3 linked regions of the Homo sapiens genome follow. The protein of the gene in region 3 purifies or fractionates together with the protein of the main gene of each other region. This does not show direct contact. Each region holds a gene or a part of one and is shown on either strand. Other genes may lie near its edges.

Region 1 (7,454 bases), on a different chromosome or scaffold from region 3:
AATCTCTTTTCAGAAGGACAAACAACATATCCCTAGAAAGCGTTTAAGCAGACAGATACAAATGAACCAAGTGGACATTTTCCATTTCCTAACTTGTGTAATTTCATCAAGAGCACTGATAAACACAGTGTGTAAACTGTCATGCCTCACCTACAGCATTTTAAAAGTTCATTAACCCATTTGCTTTCTGAATGATCCTTCCAACAATTACATAAAAACACCAAGTAAGATCCCTACAGTTTTCAGTTATTGATAAAAAGTACCTGTTCAAGACCATCCACTGTTGCATTCGCTTTATCATCATCAACGCCAACATACAATGGCTCCTTTTTCAGAGAAATCCTTGCCAGGTCTTCAACTTTTCGAGTTTGGGTGGCAGAAAAGAGCATAGTCTGTCTACGTGCTGAAACAGATACATATAAAAATAACCCCAATCTTTTAGGGAATCTTTACAATTGCCTCACAACTACAAATATTCTAGGTAGAGATATCAGAAATGGGAGATATGATGTTTCTACAGAATCTACAAATATTACAAAAGGTAAAAAGGGTATATCATGAAACACTAGGTCTATAAATTTGAGGACTTAGATGAAATGGACAAACTCCTTTGAAGACAAACAACTGAAGAAAATAGGAAAACTTTAAATAGCCTTATATCTACTAAAGAAATTTTAGTTATAACCTTCATGTAAAGAAAATTCCAGGCCCAAATGGATTCCATTGGTGAATTCTACTGAACATTTAAGAAAAAAACATCAATTATTCACAAACTCTCCAATAAATTAAAAAGAGGGCTTACATGTCAACTCATTCTTCGAAGTCAGTCATTACACTATACAAAAACCTGACATGACATGACAAGAAAACTATGGACCAATACAATTCGTGAGCACATATACAAAATTTGAAATAGAATTTTAGTAAAGTGAATTCAGCAATATATAAAAAGGATAATGGCTCATGTTTATTCTAGAAATGGATCAGGTTTATTCTAGAAATGCAGGTTGGTTCAACATTTGAAAAATCAACCAATACAATTCACTATGTTAACTAAAGAAAAAACATGATTATTTCAGCAGACAGAAAAAAAACATTTGACCATCTATTTCTGATTAAAAATCCTCAGCAAACTAGGAACAGAAGGGATCTTCCTCAATCTGATAAAAGGCATCTATATAAAACCTGCAGCTAACTTCATATGTAGTTAATGGTAAAAGACTGAATGCTTTCCCCTAAGATCAGAACCAAGATAAGGATGTCTGCTCTCACCACTTCTATTCAGCACCATACTGGAGGTTCTGGCCAGGGCAATCAGGCAGGAAAAAAAAATTAAATAAAGAGGTGAAACTGTCTTTATCTGCACATGATTGCCTATATAGAAAATCCAAAAGGCTACAGTCATCTGGAAAGTCATACTGAATAATCATTCGGTACAGGATTAACTGTCTTGCTAGATACAAGATCAATATAAAATTCAACTGTGTGTGCATATATATGTGTGTATATGTGTGTGTGTATATATGTATATATTAAAGCAACGAGCAATTGGAACTTGAAATTTTAATGAAACACTCAGAGATAAATCTGACAAAAGATGTGAATAAACCTGTATCCCGAACCCCCCTAAATATGATAGAGAAAATATCGAATACATGGAGATATACCTTATTATGGGTTACATGACTCAATACTGTCTTCCTCCAATAATCTCTATTCAATAAAATCTCAGTCAAGATCTGAGACTTTTTTGGAGGGAAGGGGGAGAAACTGACAAACCAATTCTAAAATTTATATAGAAAAGCAAAGGACAAGAATACCACAACTTTAAAAGAGAACAAACTTGGGGCTAACATTACCTGATGGTCAAGACTTAATAGGAGGAACTGGAACTTTCATACACTGCTCATAGGAATGTTAAATGGTACAGCCGCTTTGGAAAACATCTGGCAGTTTTTTAAAAAGTTAAACATACACTAAACATATACCAACTAGGACACTCCTAGGTTTACTTAAGAGAAAAGGAGATATATGCCTCTACAAAGAGTTGTAGATGACTGTTCACAGCAACTTTATTTCCAGAAAATGCAACCTAATCTAGCAGCAGAAAACAGATCAATACTCACCTGGGGACAAGGTATACGTGTAAGGAGGGGTGGGAGGGAGAAATTGAAAAGGGGCAGGAGGAAACCTTTGACTGTGATGGACATGTTCATTTTCTTGATTGCAGCGATGATGTCACAGTGGTAAACAAATCAAAGAACATCAAATTGTACATTATAAATGGGTAGATATAATTATACTTTGACAAAGCTTTTAAAAATAAATTATATAATGAAGGAAACCATGGTCTTAGTTATAACCAGTTCATAATGTTGCAAGTACTATAACCAAGGTATGTACAAGTAAGGCAAAAAATCTGCGGCTTCTTGGGGGATGTTAGATGAGGTAAGAATGGGCAAGAGGTGGAGGACAGGACCTATGTGAAGACTGCTTAACGTGCCTTATAACTTCTAAAACAGCAAAACTATTATATCAAGTTATAATACATTTGATGCTTGTATTCCAAATTACCTTTCGGGTTAATTGGCACAACTACCTCACTTGGCTATGGTAAAGTTCTGGCATTAGTACAGTTTTTCTATAGGAACAACTCTTATCTACCTCCAACAGATACTTTGCAAACCAAATGCAGATGCTACCTACTTACTTGGCAAAAGTTTAATAATTTGCTTTAATTCCTCTTCAAACCCCACATCCAAGATACGATCAGCTTCATCAATAACCAGACACTGCAGGTTTTTATACATAAATCCTGGGGTATTCTAACAAAACAAAGGACAAAGAACAACCATTAGTTGTCAGTTTATGTTTCATACAAGACAATGAGACAAGCACTACATCTCTTACCTGCATATGGTCCAGCAGACGGCCTGGTGTGGCCACAATGATGTTGATCCCATTACCAAGTTTCTGTGCTTCAGCAGATCTGTTACTGCCACCCATTATCAAGCCATAGGTATGCACGTGGTGAGTCATCAGCTCCTTAAGAACACCAAAGGTTTGCATGGCTAGTTCTCTAGTAGGTGAGAGAATAAGGACTCCTGTTCCTAAAAATGATATATGGTAGAAGTCTAAATGTGGCTGTCACCACTGAGTCCGTAACAGCTACAATAAACCTCTAGTGAAATAATGGCAGAAACAAGCAGATGAACGCTTACCATTCCTGGGCATGAACCTTAACTTAACAATGAGTTCAACTGCAGGGATGAGAAAAGCCAGGGTTTTACCACTGCCTGTTTTTGCAGCTGCTAGAAGATCCCTAAATATTAAAAAGGGAAAGGAGAAAGACATTTAGCCTACTCATTTACGACGTACTACATACACACACCTTAGGCACTACGGCTAGAACATGAACAAGAAACGTCTACAGTGCTGAAATTGATCACCTGGGTTATATACTGAAATCATAAGTCAGAACTGTGCTACAACAGAAGCAGAACACCTTTCGAACACTTTCCTTCAAACATCAGTAATTAACTTAAAGCCTTTAATGTATGCTGGATACATGACCCAACATATAGTACAAAATCAACAGAATATACTGGTATGTTCTTTATCATCTACTAGTTCTAAAAATAGATGCCAATATCTAAGCTTCAATGTTAATCATACCTGCCTTCCAGAAGTGGTCTGATACTTTTATGCTGAATTTCAGTCATGTTTGTAAAACCCATTTCTTTTATTGCCTTCAGAGTGTTTTCATTGACAAGATTACATAGAGAAGCAAACGAAGTATCCTCAAAAGCTCCTAAACAGAAGACAATTTATCATTAGCAAATTTATCTTTTTTTTTAAAAAAGTATTGCTACAGTTGCCTAAATCTATTTTGCTTAGAAAAGCTTCCCGCAGTAAGAAAAGGCTAAACCTTAATTATTCATATGTGATAATATCAAGAAAAAGACCCTATATCTTTCAAGTTTCTCCACTGTTAACGGCTGTGTGAGTTATAGTCCAGAGACCATACTATAACAAAACAAGGGGTAGAGAGGAGGTATAACCAAGGAATTTATATAAAATAAAAATACCAAAACAAGGAAAATAATGAGAGTCCAGAGATAAATGAAATGTTTAAGAAATCTGATATAAAAGTGAAAACATTGAGCATTAATAAAAACTGAGTGTGAAGTCAATAATAAAAAAAAAACCTGTTAATCTCACTCCAACAAGACACAGAAGAGTCAGATACAGCCACAGAATGTTAGGCTGAGCCTACGTATCAAGTAATACAGTGGTGGTTCAGCAGAAGGCATCAAAATCACCTGGGGGTTCCCCATACTCCACATGCCCAGGGTGTAAACCAATCACTCTTGACCTTGGCATTGCTGACATCTGGGCTGAATAATTCTTTGCTGTGAAACACTATCCTGTGCCTTATAAGATATTATGCAGTGTTTCTGACCTCTACTCACCAGATCCCAGCAGACTGCTCCTAGCTCTGAGAACCAAAAATGTCTCCTAGGCTTAGGATGACCAATCTTCTCAGTAGGCTAGGGACAGAGGAGATTCTTGGGATTCAGAACTTTCAGTGCTAAAACTGTTAAAGTTCTGGGCAAACCAGGAAGAGTTACTCTTCTTACTCGGGGGGCGAATTTCCCTGCTCGAGAGCTACTACCAAAACGTTTGCAATTTGGATTAAGCAGGTCTAGGGTTGGGCCTCAACATTTTAACAAACCAACCAACCCAAACCAAATAAACAACTCAAGTAACTCCTAGACATATCTGGTTAGGAGCAGTGAATTCTAGCCTAAACTCAACTTTATAAAGGAACAAAGGCCAAAGGAGGTTAACCTCGTACAGGGCCAATCATTTTCCTATTACAACATAGAATGAGACTCAGAAAAGGACAAACCAAGGAATCCTAGAAGCTGCTAGTGTGCATATAAAATATTTGGTGTCAGGAATGAACAAAAGGAAAAAAACAGGGAACAAAAAGAACTAAAACACCACAAAATAGAAGATAAAGAGAAAAAGCAGCAGAAAGATATAAAAAAAGTTTCTTGTTGATAGTTACTTTTTTCAGGTAAACTGAAAGTCACAACTGAACCTTCAAACCTATAATCCTCTAAGAGAGGCACATTTTAAAGAAGTTACCTCTAGAAAACTTCCTGGACGTTACCTGTCAGTCCCAGGGGCAGACTGGGCACCTCACTCTCATCTTCATCATTATCTGGCTTCTCCACATTATTTTCTGTTTCTTTAGTAGTCTCGGCACTTTCTTCTTCAGATTTCCCTTTGTTTTCAGTTTTTGCTTTTTTCGTATCTTTGGTTTTAAAAGACAAAATCCGAAAAAATTTTTCCTTAAAATAGAATTCCAAATGAGATCAACAAACAGAAGATCTCTGATATAAAGACGTATATTTTCAAAAGCTAAGTATATGCTGTATTAATTTGTTAAGAATTCTGTTTGGTGAAAAATGAGTGGTTGTATTTAAAAACCCAGGGTACAGACAGACTTGGTGACAAAACCTTTTAGGCTTTTGTTCAACTAAACAGTATAAACATACCAATTATAAGTTTCACATACTCCACTGAGGGGAAAGGAAGCATACCTGATTAACATAATCCTTAAAAACTCATTATAAGTAGTCATTTTTCTTCCCACGCCAATCACTATCAAAGGCTCTTCATGTTACTAGAGATAGACTGTAAAGGAAGGGCAACAACCCACTTGCCTGGCTGACATACACTGGACTGTGCCTTGGCTATCAGGGATGAGGGTGGGAGGAAAGGCAGGGCTTCTTCCCACCCTCATTTCTACATTCACAACTTTCATGTGGCCCCAACTACCTTTTCAGTCCTACCTCTCACTTCTCTTTTCAATGTTCGACTCTGGGTCAAATGGATTAACCACATGCTGTGTTTATATAAAACTATATGGCAATTAGTGATGTTTGAAAAGAACTTAGACCACAACCCAGGACTCTCTGTAGCTCAGTACTGGTCTCCTCCCTGTACCTGACGGCCACCCTTCCAGGAAAGAGTCAACTTTGTAGGACCTACATGTTCAAAAGCCACAGATATCTTCAGCTGGTCTCCATGGCTTATTTTGTTTTCCCTGGAATAGTTCCTAAAATGTACCCATAAGGTGGTTGGGTGTGGTGGCTTCTGCCTGTAATCCCAGCACTTTGGGAAGCCGAGGTGGGAGGATCACTTGAGCCCAGGAGTTCAAGACCAGCTTGGACAACACAGTGAGACCCCATCTCATAATAAAACAAACAAACAAACAAACAAACAAAAAACCCATAAGGTTAAAACGCCCAGCATTGTGATTCAATGCTTGGGAGCAGAAATAATACCACTTCCTGGGGCATACTCAAAACAAGAATTGTGAAGGCAATAATTTTAGAACAGGATTACAATGACTTCTGTGTGTAGGCATCATGAAGACAGTAATGCATGTTTGGAAAAGTTCAAAGTCCCTTTCTAAATAAAACCCTTATTTCAGGTAAAATACATGAATAGGATGTTCCAACTCAGGGGCTGGCAAACTTTCCGCAAAGGGCCAGATAGTAAATAGTTTAGGCTTTGCAGGTCATATGATCTCTGTTGCCATAAACACAACCAAATAGGCATTGCTATGACCCAGTAAAACTTTATTTACAAAAACAGGTAGAAGGAGGGATAGTTTGCTGACCCCTATCTTATCCTACCTTGATATCTCTGCTTATACAAATCTCAATTATAATGTCCATTCTTTCATCCGAGCTTACTGAAATTCCATCATCTTCAAAAAACATTCCTTCCTTTTCCTCCTGCCATTCTTAGCACTTGGAAATTAATGTTCCATTTATTCAGAAGTTTCCTACTTTATATACTTTGTAACTAATATTCCTTTCAAAGGGAGGAATTTATGGAAGGAAAATGGGAAGAATCAAGCAGGAAAAAAGGTAACTTAAAAAGAAGAGAAAATTTCTAGAATTCTAAGGAGAGTCTTTTCTGAGAGAGGTTTTCTTCAAGGTTAGTGAAATTAAAAATATATTCCTCAATATTTTGAGAAAAGTTGAAATGGACTCCCCGCTTCTGCCAATAAAATGTTTCCATTAGCTACCAGGCTAATCTCTAACATACTGGTGAGTACAGGGAATTCTCATGTCATGTGCACACAATAGTAATAGAAAGAGGAACAATAACCGTCTGTGAAAAACTAAATGGCTGAAGTTCAAAGATAATAAATACCTACCAGGCTCAGCATCATTCACCATTTTTCTCTTTTTCTTCTTTTTCTTTTTTGATTCTGAATTGGAAGACTGCATTGCTGCTTCTCCATTGGTTAATACAGTGGATTTCTGGGGAGACTTTGTAACTTTTATATTTCCCACTGCTTCTTGAGACATGCCTCCATTTTGAGTTTCTGATAAGCCCACATTCATGGGCTTTTGTTTTGATTTTTT
Region 2 (7,454 bases), on a different chromosome or scaffold from region 3:
GCCCATCCTGGCCCTCAGCACAGCAATGCCACATGGGGCTCCGTCCCGAGCAACCAGAAGACGCAGCAGCAACAGCAAAGAGTGCCAGACACAGGACGGGACAGATGGAGGTCACGGGAGGCCTGGGGGGCCCCTCCCACACCCTCCACAGAAGCCACAGGCCATGCACCTCCGTAGGACATGCCAGGAGGAGCAGAGAAAGAGTCAGCCTGGCCTCTCAGTCTTGTGACCCCTCCCCAACCACTAGGAGCCCTCAGGCTGTGAACCAGAGAGATCCAGGGTACATGCTGGGGCACCAGAGGACAGAAGCAGATTATGGGGGGCCCAAGGGTGGAGGCCCCAGCAAGACACCCCACTCAGCAGGGGTGGCTGCCAGACAGCTGAGCTCAGGTCCAGATGGGAAAACGCCCTGGTACTGATGAACCTCTGGGAGGACACTGCCCTTCTCTAGCCTGGGCCAAAAGTATGGGCAGGCGACTGGCTTCCTGTCCAGGCACCGGGGAAGGGCAGGCACGGCCTACAGCTGAGGGCTTTGTTTTAGCTTTTAGGGTTTGCTTTTTCCGGAGAGGAGAGGCCTGCATCCCTGCGTGAGAGGGGCCTACAGGGTGCGGCTGCAGTGAACCAGGGCAGTGCACAAGTGAAGAAACAGACACTGCAAGAGAGTAAGAAAGCACGTAGCCAAGGAGATTGGACAAGGGAAACAGACACAAAGCATGCCTGGAGCTGGGCAGCAGAGCTGGAGGCCCACAGACACAGGGGCCAGGCCAAGGGCTGGGCAATCAGAGACCACTGCTGGCTGCCATGGGAGTGAACATGGCTTCCTAAAGATGTTCAGCATCCCTGCCTCAGTGGAAGGGGAATCAGAACGTGCCTGGGGCTTCCATACCTTCTGGACCCAGCAACCTGGGGACCCAGCCCCAAGGACAGCTGTGACACGACTCTGGGCCTTCATGAGGCTGAGAACTCATTAGATAAACAGGGTGGAGATCGTGAATTCCTAAATTTACAGCGGGGTGGGGCCTAACCCACCCACTGAAAGTTGAAACTTCGGACTCCAATCTTTCCCTACCTGAGTGGCATGTGCACGTGCAAAGATGCATACACACAGGTACACACAGGCGCACACATGCACAGGCACACACGTAGACGCACGTACATGCACACAGGTGCACACACGCACAGGCACACACAAGCAGACGTGCATGCATGCACCCAAGTGTACAGGTACACGCACAGGTACACACGCACAGTACACACATGCAGATGCAAATGCATGCACACAAGTGCACACAGACACGTGTGTATGCACATAGGTGCACACAGGTACATAGATGCACGCAGACACACATGCATGCACACAGATGCACACATGCAAAGGTTCATGCATGCACAGGTAGACACATGCAGACGCAAATGCATGCACACAGGTGCACACACGCACAGGTACACACATGCAGACAGGTGCACACAGGTACACACGCATGTGCATGCATACAGGTACACACAGGTACACACTGGTATACAAAGACACATGCACAGGTGCACACACGCAAAGGTACACGCAAAGGTACACACATGCATACACACAGGTGTACACACGCACAGATGCACACACCTGCAGGCACACAGGCATTCATGGATACACGTGCATACACACATACAGATGCACACATGAACTGATATGCACACACACACAGATTTACAGACCCATGCACCCAGATGGTGCACACACACGCATGCATGCACAGACAAACGCACCCACCCAGATGTACACACATCCCCCATACAAATGCATACACATGCACACAACTGTCAGGGCAGGGCACTGTTCAGTGTACAGTTCAGCAATCAGACTTGGGTTTTGGCCCATCTCGCCTCCTGCCTACTCCAGTCTTGGGCAAGCACCTACAGGGTCAGGTCCCGGCATCCTCAAGCACAGCCCTAGCAGCAGCCGCCTTCATCCCCAGTGGTCCCACGTTCCCCAACACTGCCCCCAGCACACGGAGGAGCACTGTCCTCGTGACACCCGTGACAAGGAGGCGGCCAGGGCTCCGGGAAGTCGCCGGACAACTCAGCACAGACGCCCGGAGCAGCAGATGCTCCCTACAGGAGCAGGCAGAGGTGCCACACGCCCACCACAGCCTCACTCACCTCCAGGATGAAAGGCAGCACCGGGATGAAGGCCCCCGAGCTCCCCGAGAGCAGCGTCAGGGCACGGATGCAGTGCATTCGCAGCGGGTAGAAGCGGGCAGTGGGGATGAGCCTGGGGGTGGGAAGGCCGAGTGAGCAGAGGCCCCGGCTCTGGCAGCCCCTGCCCCTCCCCCTGCTGTCTTGGACCTCCTCCCCCACTCACCGACATCAGACCCCTAAAGCAGGACAAGGCACGTCTGAACCCCAGGGACCTGCACCCCTTGCCCAGCTATGGGGCTGCAGGTACCTTACCCAGCTTTCAGCTTTATTTCAACACGGTGGCAGGGGTCATCTGTTCCTGCCTGCTCTCCTCCCTGTTCCCGCCTTTCCTACTTCTTCCCTTGGACTTCCCACCTCCCTTCCCAGCCTTGAGTTTCTAAGGCTCAGCCAGACAGATGCCCCCTCCTGGCCAAAGAGGCCACAGTACTGCTCCCACCTTTTCCTGCTGCAGCCCCTACCGTGCCTGGACCCTCCTAAGCGCTCACACCCAAAATGCAGTTCACTGCATCAGATGTGCTCCACCCAAGAACCCCACGTAATGAACCAAACTCACTGCAAACTGCACACAAGCCCCCAGAACACACGCTGGGTGGCACCCGAGGCGGCTAAACCGCTGTTGGAGGAGCTCATGTCACAGGTGCCCACCAGCCCTAGCTCTCCAGAATCCAGAGCATCTCCCCGTAGCAGGTACAGGGACCCCAGCCCTTCCTCAGGGACGGCCAGGACACAGACTCAGGCCCCAAGGCCCTGAACGCCAGAGGCACCGCCCACACAGTCCCAGCAAATTTGCTTCTCCTGACCCTCCCGCACAACCCTGCCCACCCCACAACTCACTTGATACAGCCAATGATGACTTGGGCAAGGGGGTAGACCAAGGGCTGGAGGGCTTCGCTGGGGCCCGCAGTGCTCAGGACCCGGCACCACAGGAAGAGGCAGTGCACATACTGCCAGTTGTACACAGACTGGTATGTTTCCTGGTCAGAGAGAACCACGTCAGCTACTGGCCAGGCTGACAAGTCAGGCTGATGCACGTTCCTCCTGGGCCGGCACAGGAATCATTTCCTCATCTTGCACACGGGGTCTCAACCCATCCACCCTTCCCCCACCTGCAAGGACCGACTGCACCAGGGTGCTGGGCTGTCTCCAGACAGGGGCTTCGGGGAGGCCCCAGGCCCTGCCTTGGGTCGGGCACCTGGGCTGCCCCACCCCATGCCCAGCATGAGCCTGGAAGGGCCCCACCACACACCTTCTTGCGAGTGGTCATGGCGTTGCGCAGGTGTATGGCGAGCTGGCGGATGTAGAGGAAGGCGTGCTGGTAGGCCACACCCGGCTCCAGGGCCAGCAGCTCCGTCAAGGTCCACTGCATGAAACTGATGAAGGGGAGGGCACCAGGCGAGGTGAACTTGCAGTTCCTCACATACGTGATGTACATTTGCTGCGGAGAGACCCGGGTCAGAGCCACCTGGGATCAGGGCCATGCACCTCCACCGCCCACTCCAGGGCCCCTGTGAACACCTGGGCCTTTCCCTCAGAGCTGGGCCTCGAGGAAGAGCCGTAGCCCCTTGCACAGCCCCCACCCCCAAGTGCCCACCAGCCTCAGGCCTGGGAGAAGCTGGGGCAGAAGCTCCTGCTGCACACTGGGCCCCTCTGGGGGCTGAGGGTCCCCACATGCAGGCCACCCATGGCTTGGGGACGGGCAGTAGGACTGTACCCTGGCCATGGCCTCAGGTCCCAACACCCAGTGTCCTCCTCCAGCCAGAGAGGCCCTCCCCTGGGGAAGCTGTGTGAAGCAGGGTCCAGGTGGGGCCCTGAGAAGGCCGAGGGCTCTCTTCCCTGCCCACCACCCCCAGGTGCTCTGTGAGACATTCGTGATCCAAGGGCCCAGGTCTGCTCAGAGCTGCAGTGAGGGTCCAGTGAGGGGCACCAACCACAAAGGCAGCCCGCCCTGCCCTTAGGCCGAGATTTCCAATGCAGATGCTGAGGGACACAGACGCAGGGCCCACCACTACCTTGAGGACGGGGCCAAGGAAAGTGTCCTTCTTGTGCCGGCAGACTCTGCTGAGGACCAGGAAAGCCAGCACCCGCAGAGACTCTTCCCCAGTGCTCCATACGATCACCATTCTCTGCAGAAGGTCAGACGTCACTGGTGGCCCCCCAGCCTCCTCAGCAGGGATGCCCCAGGGCCAGCACAGCCCTCCCCAGCCAGGCAAAGGCTCCCATGGCCACCAGCTCTTCCCAAAGCACCTCGGGGGAGCCGTGAGTTAGGTGCTCAGTTACAGAAGTGAACAGAACAGGTGTGTTGCTCCTTGTGAGAAGAGGACCACAAAAGTTTACCACGTCAGACACGCCGACGTATGTGAGATCACACCGGGAAGAAGATACCTCACCGTGGCTTTGCTCACGGACTGAGCCGCGCTGCCCGGGCAGGCAGGGACTGCCTGAGACAGAAACCCCAGGTGGGGGTGGGGGCCAGGTGCTTCTGTGGCCTCTCTAGCCAAGCGGAGCCAGTGGAGTGTGGGCACCACCTGTGCCCTGGCCAGGAGTGGGATGTGGTGGGGGTAGCCGTGTGGCCCCCCGACCCCATGACAGACACAGGGAGGGGACTGGGCCACGAACCTTGAGCAGCATGCGGCACTGCTTGGGGAAGGTCAGGAAGCAGGGCACCAGCACGCTGATGTGCCGCAGCACGGCCGCCAACACCGTCGTCTCCGACAGACAGGACACCAGCTGGGGGCAGGAGGGGACAGTGAAGCCCCAAACCCATGTATTCTGGGATACAAAAAAGGACCGACCACCAGATACAGCCAGGCCCCCGTGCCCTCCCCACCAGAATAGCACCTGTATGGCCGAGCCCAGGTAAGCCTTGATGTCCACACGAAGCTTCCCCCAGAGCGGGCTGCTGGACGGCTGCAGCATCCTGCAGAGAGACCACCCACCCCTGGCTGGGAGGCCCCACGGCTCGGACGCGAGGCTGCTCAGCATGTTGGCGCGTGCCCTGGCCAGCATAGCCTCTACGACTCTGCAGAGACCCCCCGTCTCTCCACTCAAAAAAGCTCAGGGCCCCTTACAGCTGGACAGACACAGGGGCTTAGGAGGACCCTCTCAAGTGCATTAGCTCCTCCTTCAGTGGCCTTGAACTCCTGTCTGCCCTGCCCAGGGTTGGCCACCGCCCTAAGAGTCCCCGGAAGTCCCAGCCTCCAACTCCCTCTCAGACATAAACCTTTTCTAGGTCCCCTTGATCACATCCCCACCGTGAGACCACACGAGGTCCCTAAGCCCAGCAGCTGGTACTCAGCACCTCTGGGGTCGCCCAGGCACCACCAACTGCCGCAGACTGGTTTCCTTTGGCCCACATTTGCTGCACAAAGAAAAGAAAATCAGAGGGCAGGTGTGGAGACTCATGCCAGTACTCACTGCACTTTGGGAGGCCAAGGCAGGAGGATCAAACTCCAAGCCCAGGAGTTTGAGACCAGCCTGAACAACACAGTGAGACCCCGTCTCTACAAAAATATACAAAATATTATCCAGGCCTGGTGGCGGAGTCCCAGTTACTTGGGAGGCTAAGGTGAGAGAATCACTTGAATCCAGAAGGTACGTGTCGCAGTGAGCTATGATCACTGCATTCCAGCCTGGGCGACAGAGCAAGATCCTATCTCGTAAGGAAAAAAAAAAACCAAAAACCAAACAAACAAAACAAAACAAAACAAAACATTTACCAGAGCCCACGCAGTAGGCGCTCACTAAAATCTGCTGAAGCATGGGAAGGACAAAGGGCAGGGCCCCAGAAAGGCCCCCCGTCCTCGACCCTCCTCACACCTGTGCTGACACTGGCTGCTGGGCACCTGCAGCTGCCCACCCAGACCCAGGAGGCAGCTCTGCTCCCCACGGCCTGACTCCCTCCGGTACAGCTGCTGCCTCGACAGGGGTCCCTGACCTGGTGGCTCAGGCTGCAGTGCGTGCTGCCTCCCAATCGCTGCCTGTCCCTCCACCCCCATCTGCCAGCTTCCTTGTCCCCTTCGGACAGCACTGCCTCCATGTGGACATGGCTCTGTTCTATCCGTCCAGCCCCGACCACTACCACCAGCAACAGTGCCCCTGTCTCCTGAGCCGCTGTCGGCGAGACCTCTCCTGTGGGTCTCCTTTCTTCCTTTGAAGGTGTCCTGGGGCAGTTCCAACTCTAGGCCTCCACTGCCTCAAGGTCACATGGCTGCACAGCCCCGGAACCCCAACGTGCTCCATGCTCTACCAAATGCTTGGCCGTGCGTCTCTCTTCTCTGAAAACCTTCCACGGCCTTCTCTGCCCAATCTTTCTCTAAAGGGGAAGTTGAGGCCCTCAGGTTCTCAGCATTGATGAGGCCCCTGTCTACAGACACACACAGCTCCAGGAAACAGGCCAGTCATAGTGCAGAGATCAAGGAGTATGGACAGGACTTACAAGTTCTTACAAAGGGAAATAGAGCAAGAACCCTAACCTGGGAAAATCTGAGAGCAAAGGCAGCTGCACACGCCACACCTTCTGAGACTCTGAGCAGACAACTTCCCTTTTCAGGAAGGAAAGAAGGTGGGGCCGCTCCAACTGGCCCCAAGTGCCCAGCCTCTCCCAACGGTCCCTCGTGCCCCGCTGCCTTCTCAGGGTCCCCAAGAAGACGCTGGCTCTGTTGCCATGTCTCTGTCCTAGCCACAAGGCCTCTGGCTTCTCCTGTGTGTGGTCCCGACCCACCTTCCACCCTACCCCCCTTCACCCCCTCCCCTCTTACCTGCTGCTATCCTTTGCCACCTTTCCAAACAGCAGCTTCTGGAGACAGCCAATGAGGTCTCTGATGCAGAAGGTAACCAGAGCATTGAATGCTGCAACGAAAAGGCCTGGATGTACTCACGGGACAGAGAACGCAACAGACAGCCTGGATGCCAGGCTCCCCCCAAGCTCACCAGCACTGTCCGTGACCTGGAATTTGTTGGCCTCAGCACTTTCCTGGTCCCCTCGGGTGGTGGCCACAGCTGCTCGGAACGCCTGTACCACTTCATGGAACAGCTTTGGAGTGAGGCGTTGCTGAAGGAGCAAGAGTACCAGGGGCGTCAGGGGAGCTGAGACTGCACTTGGCAGAGTGGAAACGGCAGCCCCAGAGAAAGGCACCCTCACCCTCACCCTCAGACATAGGGCAGAGGTTGGGGGGAGGCACAGAGCCCCATACTGATAACAAAAATGGAAACAAAGTCTAGAATTCTCTGGGAAGAGGAGGGAGTCTGGCTCAGGAGCCCCAGGA
Region 3 (7,289 bases):
ATGCCCAGCACCTATGCTGACTACAGTAAAAATGCTCACTTCCAGGGCCAGGCGCGGTGGCTCGCACCTGTAATCCCAGCACTTTGGGAGGCCGAGGAGGGCAGACTGCCTGAGGTCAGGAGCGAGACCACCCTGGCCAACATGATGAAACCCCGCCTCTACTAAAAATGCAAAAATTAGTCGGGCGTGCTGGTGGGTGGCTGTAATCCCAGCTACTTAGGAGGCTGAGGCAGGAGAATCGCTTGAACCCAGGAGTCAGAGGTTGCAGTGAGCCGAGATCGCACCATTGCGCTCCGGCCTGGGCGACAAAAGCGAGACTCTGTCTCATCTAAAAAAAAAAGCTCACTTCCAACCCCCTTCTCATGATGTCTATTGCTGTCACACTACTACTGATGTCATCCTTCCCCTGAATACCGTAAGTCTCCCCACAGGATTCTTTCCTCCGACCCTTACCTCTCTGCAATTGATATTTAAGGACAGCAGCCAGAGGGACCACTTTAAAACAGAAGTCAGACCCTGTCTTTCCTCTGCCTGAAACCCTCCAACGTCTCCCAATTAAAAGCTGGAGTCCTTACAGTGGCCGACAAGGCTCTGAACAATGTCTTCTCTGTGCCCGCTCCCCAAATTGTGTCATTCTCCCTTTTGTTCATTCTGCTCCAGACAGACTGGACACTCCCGCTTCACTTGAAACTCTTCAAACATGCCAAGCTCACCCCAGGGCCTTTGAACTTGTGTTTTTCCTTGCCTGCAAATTCTTTTACAGGGTTCACTGCCCCACTACCTGTGAGTATCTATGCAAATGGCATTTTATGACAGAATACTTTCCTAACCACACTGTTTAAAAATAGCACCCCACTCCTGGAGCACCCTAACCCTCTTCCCCTACTTCATTGGATTTTTTCCAGGATAGTTAACACCTTTGGACATGGTACACATTTACTTAGTTTCATCTCGTTCCCTTCCCCCACTAGTGTGTAAGTTGATGGAGCCAGAGACCTTTTGCTTGCTGCTAAATCCTCTGCATCTAGAACAGTACTGAAACATAGTAAAAATAATTTCATGGAAACAGACAGCCCCAGCTATCAGCCAAGTACTGCTCTAAGTGCTCTTCATATACCGTATCATTGTACTTACAAGTCTACCTGATCAGAAGATGTTTTAGCTTTGAAGCAAAAAACAAATAAACAGGCTGGACACAGTGCCTCATGCCTATAATCCCAGCATTTTGGGGGCGAAGGTGGGCAGATCACTTGAGCTCAGGAGTTCAAGACCAGCCTGGCCAACATAATGAGACTCCATTTCTACTAAAAATACAAAAATTACTGGGCATGGTGGTGTGCACTTGTGATCCCAGCTACTCGGGAGGCTGAGGCAGGAGAATCACTTGAACCTGGGAGGCAGAGGTTGCAGTGAGCCAAGATCACGCCACTGCACTCCAGCCTGGGCAATGGGAGTGAAACCATGACTCAAAAACAAAACAAACAGCCACAACCAAAAACAGTTCCTGAATAGTAACAGAAAATACATACCTCATATTACAACCAGGTGCTATTCTAGGCACTATATGTTATTTCATTTGACCTCATGCCAGCCCCATCAGATAAGTTCTATAACTCACTATGTTACCAAAGAGAAAAGTGAAGAACATAAACCATATCCTCATAATCTAAAACAGTACCTAACATGTAATGACACTGATCATAATAGCTAAATTGTATAAAACTATGTGACAAGTACTTTTCTAAAAACTGAAGGAGGCCGGGTGTGGTGGCTCACGCTTGTAATCCCATGACTTTGGGTGCCCGAGGCGTGCGGATCAATCACTCGAGGTCAGGAGTTTGAGACCAGCCTAGCCAACAAGGCGAAACCTTGTCTCTACTAAAAATACAAAAAATTGGCCAGATGCGGTGGCTCACGCCTGTAATCTCAGCACTTTGGGAAGCCGAGGCAGGCGGATCACGAGGTCAGGAGTTCACCACCAGCCTGATCAACATTGTGAAACCCCGTCCCTACTAAGAATACAAAAATTAGCCGGGCGTGGTGGCGCGCACCTGTAATCTCAGCTACTTGGCTGAGGCAGGAGAATCGCTTGAACCTGGGAGGCAGAGGTTGCAGTGAGCTGAGATCATGCCATTGCCCTCCAGTCTAAGCGACAGAGCAAGACTTCATCTCAAAAAAAAACCAAAAAACAAAAAATTAGAAGGGCCTGGTGGCAGGCGCCTATAGCCCCAGCTACTTGGGAGGCTGAGGCAGGAGAATCCCTTGAACCTGGGAAGGGGAGGTTGCAGTGAGCCAAGATCGCACCACTGCACTCCAGCCTGGACAACAGAGCGAGACTCCATCTCAAAAAAAAAAAAAAAAAAAATGGGCCAGGCACGGTGGCTCACGCTTGTAATCCCAGCACTTTGGGAGGCAGAGGTTGCAGTGAGCCGAGGCTGCGCCACTGCACTCCAGCCTGGGTGACAGAGCGAGACTACGTCTCAAAAAAAAAAAAAAAAAAAAGAACATGAGGAGGTGTTGGGAGTTATGGACACAGGGGATGGGTCAGATGTGTTTCAGAGTATGCAGAGCAGGCTCCTGGGACCATACTTACCCGAACTCGGTTGATGCCACCATAGTGGGGCACCATGGCCAGCTCCAGCTGAGGTTTCCGCTCTTCTTCATCCTCTTCATCTTCCTCCTCTTCTTCTTCATCACTGCCCTCTGAGGGTGGGGGCTTTGTCCCATGCAGATTGTGCATCCGAAGCATCATCAGTCTGGGAGAAATTGTGGGGTGAGTTAGGCACTAGATTCCAGGATTCTTAGGAAGGAGAGAGGCTGGAAACCCAGACTCCTGGATCTGCGAGAGGCAGAAACTGGAAGCCCTAACTCCTGGGTGCTGAGGAAGGGGCTGGAAACTGAGCCTCCTGGTCCTGGAAAAGCCTCGGGTCTTACCTGTTGCTCTGGGCGCTCTCAGCCTGGGTCCCAGCACACAAGTAAAGTGTAAGAGGAAGCTCTGTCCGGTTGTCTCCCAGGTGATCCCGGACTATGTCAAAGCTGAGACAGGGGGCGCCTGGGGATGGAAGGCGGGGTTTACGAGTTAAGACGGGACAGTAAGAGCTCAGTCCCCACCTCCCTCATGGATCAACCGCCTCCGGTATGAAATCACTTCTCTTAGACCCCAGCCTTCTCTTCCCGAGCACCTCTCAGGTTAAAGGCTCGGGATCAGCCACCTCAGGACCCTGGAGTCCGGACTCAGCCCTACCAGTCTGCGCTCGGTGGTAGAGCACATAGGCCTCCTCGTCCATGACCAGCTCCTCCCCTTCGCGTAGCGGCGGCCCCCGGCCGGGCAGGTAGACCTGGGCCGGGCCCTCGGAACTTGTGTCGCCGGACTCGGCTTCCATGGGTTCCCCGGTTTCACACGTGCGCCGCCGACCCTTGCGCGCCGCCATCTTCGAACCCTCTCGCTGCTGACACCCGGTAAGAGCGTCACTTCCGGGTTTCGCTTTCCGCCTAATGAGATCCGCCCTACTGCGCGGTTACCTTGGAAACTCCTGGGACCGCTAATCGGAGAGGGTGCGGAAACGCTGGAGGAGAACTCAGGTAATGGCGCCAGCGAAAGAAGCCTGCGGATACGGAGAAACTGCATCTTCGCGTGACTTTGGGCGCTGTTCCTCGCGGTAGTGGCAAGGCCTTCTGGGAGTTGTAGTTCTACGGGAGGCTTGTTTTCCCCATTGTCCAGTTTGATTCCGAGAGCGTTCTTTCCAGTTAATTAATTATTCATATATGCAAATTTGCTCTTTCACTGGCAAGGAGACTGAGTTTCTACTCCCCGAGGACCCATAAGGCCGGTTTCTTTTCCTCTCTCTGTTGTGATGGCTTTCATTTGTTTCAAAAATGCTTTCTTGTAGACAGGATGGATATTATCTGTAAGTTAGGCGGTTCAATCTACCCTCTAGGGGCAGTCAATTGCCTAACCAGACATTCACATTTCAGCTCTGGTCAGCGAGCACTTAATCAGAAAGTCCACCCTCTGGAGGCAGCTATTACAAGTGCTTCGTCTCTCTTTATCGCCCATCAGCACCAGCGGTTTGGCTAATTGACATAATGAAATGTTAGAAATAGATTCTCATTGGTGAGATTAACAGCATTCAAGATAATGCGGATTGGCTGGGATATGTCAGACACTCTCCTAGCTTGCATGAACAGGATATTGAGAATGTAGCAAGCCTTGGTACCTATAGCCATAGGAAATAAAACCATACCTTTGATCTTAATATGTTTTGTCTCCGGGATCTATCTCACCACTCTCTTGGGGTCTCTTATCTGCCCCAGTACCCTCTCGACTTTCTTTTCAGGGTCTCTTCCCACCTCCTCTTTCTTGGTCTTTGTCTCCCCAGGCACCTCCTTTCAGAGTCTCTGTTCTCTCTCTAATTCTGTCTCCTCTTCCCCTGTGGGACTTTTGTGTTTCTGTTTCCTCCAGAGAATTTGAGGGGGGCTAACAGATACGGAGCTTAGGCTTGGACTGAGGAGGCATAAAAACATGGTTTATTCCAAACACTGCAATGTGGAATAAGAGAGTGGGAAGGGAAGTTGGTGGAGAAGTGTGGACTCCCAGACCCTCCCCTCCGCAACCCAGCCCCAGACCCGGCTGGAGATCTGGGCAGAGGAGGCTTTTTGGAGGTCTGCTGGGTCATCACTGAAGGGTCGCAAATAAGGGTTGGATTTGGAGAGGATGTGCTTGGTGGCAAGTGGGGTGGTCCGGAGGTGCGGCAGGGTGGGAAGTTTTGGCTTCAGGGAGGTTGGGTTCATCGCGGTGCAAGGGAAGGCGGGGCTTCCGTTGGGGACGTGTCCTAGGTCAGAGTAGGGAAAAGCGACCGAGGGTGGAAGAGGAGGAGGGGGTGTCACGGTTTGATGTCAAGGGTCACAGTCTGGTCGGGGCACAGTCTGGGGTTCGGGTCACAGTTTGGGGTCAGGGGTCACAGTCTGGAGTCGGATGACCATTTTAGGAGTCGGATGTCACAGTCTGGGTCAGGGGTTTCTGTGTGGCGGGGCCAAGGTCTGGGGTCACAGTTTGGCGAACGCGTCTCACAGTTTTGAGTCCCAATGGATGAAAGGTTAAAAACGGGCTTCCCCGGAGGCGCGGCTGGGGCCGGGGAGCTGCACAGTGATGTGGGGGCCACGGCCCCGGGCGTGGAGGTGGGACGCGGGAGTGGCGTGAACCCCCCACCTCCCGCCCCATCTGGTGACGTTAAAAAGCCCTTGTCGGGTTTAAAAAAAAGTCCGGTGGGCTCCAAGGCCCCCGCCCCCTCGTTCTCAGGCTGGGTGATAGTTGAGGGACCAAATCCTCTCCGGCTTGCGGTTCCTCCAGAACCAGGGGGCGCAGGACGCTGCTCCAGGCGGGGTCCGGCCAGTTCCACTGCTTTCCTTCCCAACCCACGCGGGTCCTGTCCACTGCGGGCGCCCCCTCGGGCCGTGGCCTGCGCTGACCAAGGGGGCGGTGGGGCCCCCGGGGCCGCGTCATACCTCGGACTCGAGGCTAGAGAAGTGCGCCGAGCCCCTGCGGGTGCCCAGGTCCCCGCCCCGGTGTCTCCGGTGGGAAGCTGTGGGCAGCGGCGGCCCCCAGTGCGCGGCGTGCGGACACCTGCGAGCGTGGCGGGAGGGCCCGGTAAGCCTGCGCGCAGGGGCGGCGCGAGGGCACGAGCTGAGGTCCTCGAGCGAGCGCGAGGTGGGCGCGGGCGGCGGGAGGTCCCAGCCCCCAGCGGCGCGCCGGTGCCTGTGGTGGTGGGGCGCGGCGGCGGCGGGCGTGCGGTGCGAGGCCCGCGGGCGGTGCGGGTGCGACCGCGGGCACCCGCAGCGGGCCCGGCGTCGGGGCAGGGGCCCGGCGGCCCAGGGTGGAGGCGGTGGCGCCCACCAGCCGCCGTCCAGGCCATCGTGCGAGCAGCTGAGATGGCGCGGCGGCGGCAGCAGCTCCAGGCTGGCGCAGTGCCGACAGTGCCAGGCGGCCGGACCGCTGCGCGGGGGCAGGTAGTCCCAGCTCCCGGCGCGCCAGCCCCCGAGCTTGTCGACCGACCAGTAGCGGCCGGGCGGCGGCCCGAGGCGCTCGGCATACGGGTAAGGGAAGTCGGCGAACCACCAGGGCTCCAGGCCGCCCAGCGACGCGCCGCCCAGGCTCTCCGAGTCCTCCGAGTCCGACGGCGACGGCTCGAGATCGAGGTAAGGGCACGGGGGCGGCGCGGCGCGGCACGGGGGCGGAGCGGCCGGGGCTCCTCCGCCTGCGCCCCCCGTGCCCCCCGCGCCGCCCGCGCCTGGCCCCAGCAGGGGTTGGCTCTCGGGGTCCGAGCGCGGCCACCGCGCGGGCGCCGGCGGGCTCTCGTCCTCGAAGGCCAAGCGGCAGAGTGGCGGCCCGACGGCGGTGGCCGCGGCGGCGGGGGGCGCGGGCGGCGACGGGAAGCCGGGGAAGGCGCCGGCGGGGGGCTCGGCTGGCTCCTTGTCGCGTACGATGGCGAAATAGGAGGGCGGCGGCTTCTGCGGGGGCTGAGCGGCCGGCGGGGACAGCGGGCGCCCGGCTGCGCCCCGCGGTGCCGCGCGCGCTTCGCCCAGGCCGAGGCCTAGGCCCTGCGGCTCGATGGGGCCGTAGTAGCGGTGGAAGCCGTCGGCCAGGCCCGCGCCCCCCGGCGGCCCCGCGCCCTTGGTCCGGCGCCAGCGGTCCACTGAGGCGCGCTCGCGGGGCACGAAAGGTGCGGGCCCGGGAGCCGGCCGCGGCGCGGGGTACGCGGGGCTGGGCAGGGGCTGTGGCGGCGGCGGGGGCTTGGCGGGCGGTGGGGCGGCCTCAGCGCTGCAGCAGCTGTACATGCCCTGCGGGTCCGGGGACAGGACGGGGGTCAGCGCGAGATGCCCAGGACGCCTGCCCGCCTCCCCTCAGTCCCTCTCTCCTCTCCATTTACCCGCCTGTGTTTCCCGCTCTCTTCCCCACTATCCACATCTCGACCCACATCTCCTTGTCTCTGCTCGGCTTTACCTTTGTCCCCGCCCCTGCCATCTCCCCCTCTCTGCCTCCCTCTCTGCCCCATACCCTGGAGAAGGCCAGCAGGAAGTCCATGCGGTGGGTGGGCCCCAGGCAGTGCCGCAGGCGCCAGTACACCAGGTGCTCCCAGGCGAAGACCAGCAGGGACAGGCCCATGGCCACCAGGAGCATGTAGAAGACGCCCGCCATGTTGTCGATGTCCAGCTTGCTGCTCATCACCTCGATTTTGTCATTGTGGCAGATCCCAGAGAGCCACAGCCGCTCCAGCATCTCGATCTCATCT

The links.
Region 1: the proteins of GRWD1 (region 3) and DDX18 purify together in Homo sapiens (affinity purification with mass spectrometry; 2 studies listed by BioGRID, with this or other methods). This does not show direct contact.
Region 2: the proteins of GRWD1 (region 3) and NOC2L purify together in Homo sapiens (affinity purification with mass spectrometry; 2 studies listed by BioGRID, with this or other methods). This does not show direct contact.

The regions. Positions count from the first base shown.
Region 1 is NC_000002.12:117,817,518-117,824,971, reverse strand, and holds part of DDX18 (ATP-dependent RNA helicase DDX18), read right to left. Parts: coding exon 7,244-7,454; intron 5,324-7,243; coding exon 5,180-5,323; intron 3,812-5,179; coding exon 3,676-3,811; intron 3,323-3,675; coding exon 3,222-3,322; intron 3,111-3,221; coding exon 2,911-3,110; intron 2,826-2,910; coding exon 2,711-2,825; intron 404-2,710; coding exon 264-403; intron 33-263; coding exon 1-32. UniProt on the Homo sapiens protein: ATP-dependent RNA helicase that plays a role in the regulation of R-loop homeostasis in both endogenous R-loop-prone regions and at sites of DNA damage.
Region 2 is NC_000001.11:948,976-956,429, forward strand, and holds part of NOC2L (nucleolar complex protein 2 homolog), read right to left. Parts: intron 7,241-7,454; coding exon 7,120-7,240; intron 7,039-7,119; coding exon 6,948-7,038; intron 5,108-6,947; coding exon 5,029-5,107; intron 4,918-5,028; coding exon 4,807-4,917; intron 4,314-4,806; coding exon 4,200-4,313; intron 3,626-4,199; coding exon 3,437-3,625; intron 3,165-3,436; coding exon 3,025-3,164; intron 2,264-3,024; coding exon 2,152-2,263; intron 1-2,151.
Region 3 is NC_000019.10:48,442,148-48,449,436, reverse strand, and holds the start of GRWD1 (glutamate-rich WD repeat-containing protein 1), read right to left. Parts: upstream 3,455-7,289; 5' UTR 3,432-3,454; coding exon 3,245-3,431; intron 3,053-3,244; coding exon 2,935-3,052; intron 2,757-2,934; coding exon 2,594-2,756; intron 1-2,593. Other genes in the region: GRIN2D (glutamate receptor ionotropic, NMDA 2D precursor), read right to left, coding at 5,500-6,837, 7,055-7,287. UniProt on the Homo sapiens protein: Histone binding-protein that regulates chromatin dynamics and minichromosome maintenance (MCM) loading at replication origins, possibly by promoting chromatin openness.